Linked DNA regions of Homo sapiens: region 2 is linked to region 1. Evidence: fine-mapped expression QTL. A gene starts in region 1. The other region holds a variant in brackets. All regions are shown on one strand. Distances are from middle to middle. Region 1 holds the start of PTPN4 (protein tyrosine phosphatase non-receptor type 4). Region 2 overlaps LOC101927764 (a long non-coding RNA gene).

Evidence for each region. PIP is the estimated chance that this variant, and not a neighbour inherited with it, causes the effect.
Region 2: its variant is fine-mapped to the expression of PTPN4 in tibial artery (GTEx, PIP above 0.99). The same link has a PIP of 0.9 or more in gastroesophageal junction.

What each region holds. Positions count from the first base shown.
Region 1 is chr2:119,758,515-119,761,418 of GRCh38, reverse strand. PTPN4 (protein tyrosine phosphatase non-receptor type 4) reads right to left here and starts at 1,497. Exons shown (of 27, transcript NM_002830.4): 1 at 1,035-1,497. It overlaps LOC101927764 (a long non-coding RNA gene), which reads left to right and starts at 1,705. Exons shown (of 4, transcript XR_007087215.1): 1 at 1,705-1,787. RefSeq lists enhancers at 641-1,265, 1,536-1,795, 1,512-1,806 and silencers at 996-1,295, 1,846-1,955.
Region 2 is chr2:119,722,885-119,725,788 of GRCh38, reverse strand. LOC101927764 (a long non-coding RNA gene) reads left to right here. Exons shown (of 4, transcript XR_007087215.1): 3 at 1-2,904. It also overlaps a transcript of TMEM177 not described here. Among named protein-coding and RNA genes, the nearest start is that of PTPN4, 36 kb to the left of the region's middle. The variant G/A (reference allele first, on the strand shown) is at 1,365.

The sequences.
Region 1 (2,904 bases):
GCACAGTTTAGGCTCTGAACAATCCTTTATTTTAAGGCCATCTCCTTCCCCCTTAAAATTGAAAAAAAATTTTTTTCCTCTGGCACGTTAAAGTTCAGAAAACCAAGATTTAAAAATGCCCTGGCTTTTACTGTTCCAGTCTTCTTTCTACTCTAATTGTCTTTTGCAAGTCGGACACATTGGCCTTTTATCTTTCTCCATAAATATGTTTTAAATGTGACCAATCAGCTGTACTGTTTCAACTGGGCCCAAGATCTGGACACAGAAACTTAGTATTACTGAAACCTCTTATTCGAAAAGCAGCTGGCATATTGCAGATGCATAACAAGTTATCCTAGAACAGGCGTTTTGAAAAATCCTACAAATCGTCCTTGTACATACTGATGTCACTACATGATGCAAGCCCAGACATAAAATCTTCCACCCTAAGTTTTGCAGAAACATCCACACATCACCTGTGCAACTGTAAGCTGTTCCATTTTATGGAAACCCTGCGAAATGCATCACTGTTTACCCACATCTCAACTTTTTTTTTTTTTTTTTTTTTGGCTCAACTACAGATTCCCAAATACAGGTATATACTGGTAGAATCATAACAGGCTTAAAACTTCAATGGTAGGAATAGTTGGCTCATGCAGCGTGCAAGAAGCGCTCATATGAGCCAAAAAAAAAAAAAAAAAAAAAAGGAATTCTACCAGCAATGGAAAACTCAAGATTCCAAAGCTTTACCTAGAGTTTAGGTACTGGGAACATTCCATCTCCGCACCTATTCCATCCCTTGGCCCTTCGCTGACCCATAACAGAGATTCCAACTATAACCCCCGCAAAAGCAGAGGTCCCAGGAAGAAAGGAAAGAAAGCGTTTTTTTGTTTGTTTGTTTGTTTGTTTTTGTCCTTTTTTCCTTCCTTTCAAATCATCCTCGTACCTCCGGCTTGCCCCACCTGGCTCACCTCCCAGGAGCCACACATGCAGGTAAGAGCCTCCCGTTCAACGTGCAGGGCCGAGAGGCCGGCGGGGACCGGAGAACCTCTTACCTTCGTATATCACAGCCGCGTCCTCTCGGCTGGAGAAAAAAAGCCTCGAGGCCCCGGCGCGCAGAGGAGAAGCGCGTCCTCCGTGCCGCTCCGGGGGGCTACCTCAGCGCCCCCCGAGCAGCCGCCGCCGCAGCGGTCGCGCCACGACCCGGAGCCGCCAGCACCACCTCATGCTGCTGGGCAGCCGCGGGCCGGCGCCGCTGGGGAGGTGGCAGGGAGGCGGGCAGCCGGCGACCTCTCCTACCTCCCTGCAGGGATGAGATAATCCACACCCCCAAAAGTGCGTGGGGGAGGGGGCCTGGCCCCAATCCTCCGACCCCGCGGCCAAAGCCAAGTCTCTTTCCTCTCCCGCTCAGGCCCAATTCCGGCCCCTGGGACCCAGGAGTCCTGAGAGAACAATGTTGGTGGTGGGGCGCGAGGAGCGGAAAAGCGCACTGCGCGGCGTGAGCTGGCGGGTAATCCTGGGCAGCGTTTGTGTGTGAGAGTGCAAGAGGAGCTCAGTCACCCCCCTCCTTCTCCACCTCCTCTTCCTCCCCCTCCTCCTCCTCTATCTCTTCCTCCTCCCTCAAGCACACCCCCTCTCCTAGGCCGCAGCATAGCAACCGAACATGGCGGCTGCGCAGGCGCCGCCAGTCAGTGGCCAGGAGCGGCGGCGGCAGCAACAGGAGGCGATCTCGCGAGAGGCGAGGCCAAAACCCTGCCTCGCTAGCGCAGGGAGAAGTCGCACCAGTCGGAGCGCAGAGGGACACGCAGGTGCGAGAGAGAGCGGCCTAGGAGGATTGGGAGGGCGGATTGGAGGGGGGAGGCGGAGCGCTGTGGCCCCCGCCCCGCAGCCGCGTCGCGATTGGTTGTTTGGACTGCGACCCCTGCTGCACCCACTGACCGCAGGGACCGGATAGTGGGCAAGAAGCGTGTGTTAAAAGGGAAAACCAGACCAGTTGGCAGCAGGTCGCCCCAACCTCAGTGCTCCTGGAGGATATAGGTTTTGGGGGGCAGTTTTGAATCATTTCCTCTCCTAAACGTAGGCTCCAAAACAAAGCCTCAGCAACCAACCTGCGTTTATAAAACAAACGTTCGGGGGCTCCTTCTGTGTGCCTGGAACGGTGTGCTTTTTAAAATTTAATTCCTTCTAATAACATGAATTTGGTGTTATCACGCCAGGGTTTTTAGCCAGGTGCATTATAATATTTTATTGGTGATACAAACTTATTGGTAATACCACAGTTGCCTACTGGCGAATGATCTCAGCTGAAATGGAGGAAGAAGGGATTTGGGGACCGCCACACTTCCTTTTTGCCCAATTTTTGTTAGTGCCCTTTTCTGTCGCCAGGCGCCTTCTTTGTCCTTCCTTGCTCTTAGCTTGAGCATCCTATCAGAGCCTACCTTTATAAAGACGATCTTTCAAAAACCACTTTCCCAAGCCGACAAAATGACTACAAATCAGGGGAATGTGAACAAATCTGGAAAAGACAGAAATTTCTATTGACTCTCTTCTCCCTCACACCTGTTAGTTTTTCCATTTGAAAAAGGCAACTTGTCAATCCATGTTTCCAGCTTTACTTCCTTCACTTGCTTTTCTTCCCAGATCTCTGTTGTAGCCAGTGCTCATTCATTCCTCCCTAAATATGCATTCCTGCCTCTGACTCTCCATTTTGTCTTTGATCATGCCATTCCCTCTGCTAAAATGCTCTTCACCTCATTGTCATCTGTCAACATCCAGTCATCCTCCAACCAAAGATCATATGAGACTTCCACCAGAAATTGAATGTTTCATATAAATAGAATCATACAATATGTAATTTTTGTTTAGAGGCAAGGTCTCGCTATGTTGTCAGGCTGGTCTCCAACTCCTGGGCTCAAGAGATCATCT
Region 2 (2,904 bases), 36 kb after region 1:
CTTTAGGCAGGGGCCCCAGAGACAACCATTTAGAAGATTCCGAGAATCTGCCTACTAGCATGAGGTAGGCTGCCTGTGCAGGACCTGCCAGGAAGGTGTAAACCTGGCCTGCCAGCTCTAGCCCACTGGTCACTTGGGCCGAAGAGTCATGAGAAAAGGGTTATTTGGGAGAGAGCTGAGTGTCATGATGTGCCCGCCGCCCTTGGGTCAGGTGACTGTTTCCTGCTGGTTTGCCTGGGACTCTCCCGGCTTTAGCAATGGAAGTCTTGCATCCCGGGAAACCCCTTAGTCCCAGGCAAACTGGGTCAGGTGAGCACCATATTTCTGGGGGAAGATTCTGGCACTTCCTTCCTACCTCAAGACAGGTGTGAGGGGCTTTGAGGGGCTCTGGAGCCATGGGCCTGGGGACAGAGCTAACACCCATGCATCAGACACCCAGAGGACCCATGCCAGATCACACTGCTGTGCTCAACTCCCTCCCTTCTCCCTCTGGGCCTAGCCTCAGATGGTCTGAAACCCAGCTAGTGAGAATGGGGGCTGGAAGTAGAGCCAGGAGAGAGAAGAGACTAGCAACACAGACCCCCGACTCCTCCTCAGGCCGCTTCTAAGCCTGGAGCAAGCCTCAGATTGTGGGAGGAGACTGAACTTAACAAAATTTAAAGTTTGATGTTACACTGTCTTGGACATTTTAAGTCACTGAAATGAGACTTGAAAGGGCCGAGAAGCACTGTGGGAGCTGCCAGGGACGTCCCCCGGGGATGGGGAGGAATGATGACAGAGGGCAGGGGAAGGCTGAAGCTGCTTATGAGCCAGCACTGCCAAGGGCGACCCTCTCAACAACCAGGCTGCTTGGAGTGGCCACTGTGGGCCCCACCAGGGCCTTGCCGCCTCCTCCCAGACAGGGGTGGAACCACAGCTGCTGCCACTTCTACTGCCTAAGGCGCAGGGATGGGGGGTAAGAACCCAGGGTCCCCTCACTGCCCCCTGCCCATCAGGCTATGGCAAGAGCCTTTCCTCACCCCAGATGCTGCCTCCTCAAATGGAGCATCCCAGCTCTCCAAACCACCAGAGCCCGTCCTTCTCCTCCCAAGCAACCACAATAATAAATGATAGCCTGTTGACACATGCGAGACACGGAAATAGGTTCTTAACAGACATTGTCTTCTTTTGTCCTTATAATTTACCAGTGAGGTATTGTTGCCATCCTCATTTTTCAGAGGATCAGAGAGGTTAAGGAACTTGCCCAGCTATTAAGTAGTGGAGTGGAAACCTGTTCTGTCTCCACCCAAAGCGCATGTCCAGTTCACAATTCTGCACGGCTTCCTAGCTCTTACCTAGCCTAACCTCCCAGCTCCCCACCAGGC[G/A]CCTGGGAGGGACATCTTTGCACTGGGACCTTGGTGGGATAGCTGCGTTTCCACTATTCCTACTTGAAACCTGGAATGTGTTTTTTCATGGAGACAATATGATGAAGGGTTCCTTCGACTCCACGGTGGTTACTTATTGGTTAAGTCGCCCTTTGTGACCTGGCCTGGGGTTCTGACCACACTCGATCATGTGATTTCCCAGGAAGAAAACACATCCTGGGTTCTAAATAGCAAATTCCAAACACACTGTTAGGACACAGCTTATTTGTGAGTTAGGGAATGTCTGCCTGTAAATGATTTTAATTTGAGTGACAAGAAAAATAAACTGGGCTCTTTCATTATGCTATTTGGGTTGTTGGTTTACATAGAAGTGAGGCTGCCCCGCACTTTGTCCTTCTACAAGGGCGTCATCTGTTTGAATTATTCAATCTCTTCAAAGAGTTTGTGGCTAAGTGTACGGTACTGGAGAAGCATGTGGTTTAGTGAGTGAATTAAAAGTCAGGAGATGTGGGTCTAGCCCTCCCCTTGCCCTTAACCAGCTGTGTGACTTTGGGTGAGTCACTGTACCTCTCAGGGCATCTGCTTCTCAATCTGTACAATGAGGTGACTCTCGAGAATCCCCAAGTTCCCTCCCAGACCTCAGATCCCATGAAGAACAAAGAGCCTCAGGTGCAGAACTGCGAAGGAGAGGTCTGCTCAGAAATCATGTTTCTTTCTTTTGCTTCCCTTTGTAATTTTTCAAGAAAAATTCTTTAGTAATGGTGTTCTTGGGCTATAGCAGATGAAAAAAAGAGAAAGTCAGGTTCTTTGGGGTTAAATGGAGCATTTAATGACAGTTAAGCAAAAAGATGTGTGCTGGGCCTTTTTCTCACGTTGGATGTTTGGCTAATTGATCAGCAGATCCTGGCACCCAAGTGACAACCTGCATTGAAAAGGCGGAACTTGGCTCTCCTGCCCTGCCAGCTGTAAGAGCTTGAAAGCAAAGCTATGGGGGGAATGTCTTTCATTTCCCCCTGGAAGCTGGGAGGACGTTCAGCTTAGCATTGCCAACTGTGTAATGTGGACTTGCCTCTAAAAGAAGCCTTTTTCCTTGGATGTCTTTCAGGCCGCAGTATTCCCTTTGGCACCCCCACCCACCTGGAACAAAGCCTGATGTAAAGTCTGGGTGCGACTCAGACCGGCCTGGGAAAGAATTTATTTAATAAATGGTGGAAAGTGGCTTCCTTGACGTGTCTTCGATGGCTTTTTTATAAAGCATTTGGTTTGTCTACTCGTCTGTTTTTGCGCCATCTCTTTCCACAAAGATGGCTTATAGCAGGGATACTTACAACAAAATGATGCTGGGAAAACAAAAACAAAGAAGTAGAGAATTAGGCCTGAGAAAACTAGGAGTAGAGAGTCACGATTAGATACAGAGGAGCATAGATGTGTAGTCTAGGAAGGCCAACTAATTGTTATAGCTGAAATTCAAATTCAGTTAGCTAAAATGTTCCTAGTGTCAAAGGAAGAATGGGCCACACAGTTGCATAATCCTTAGTAT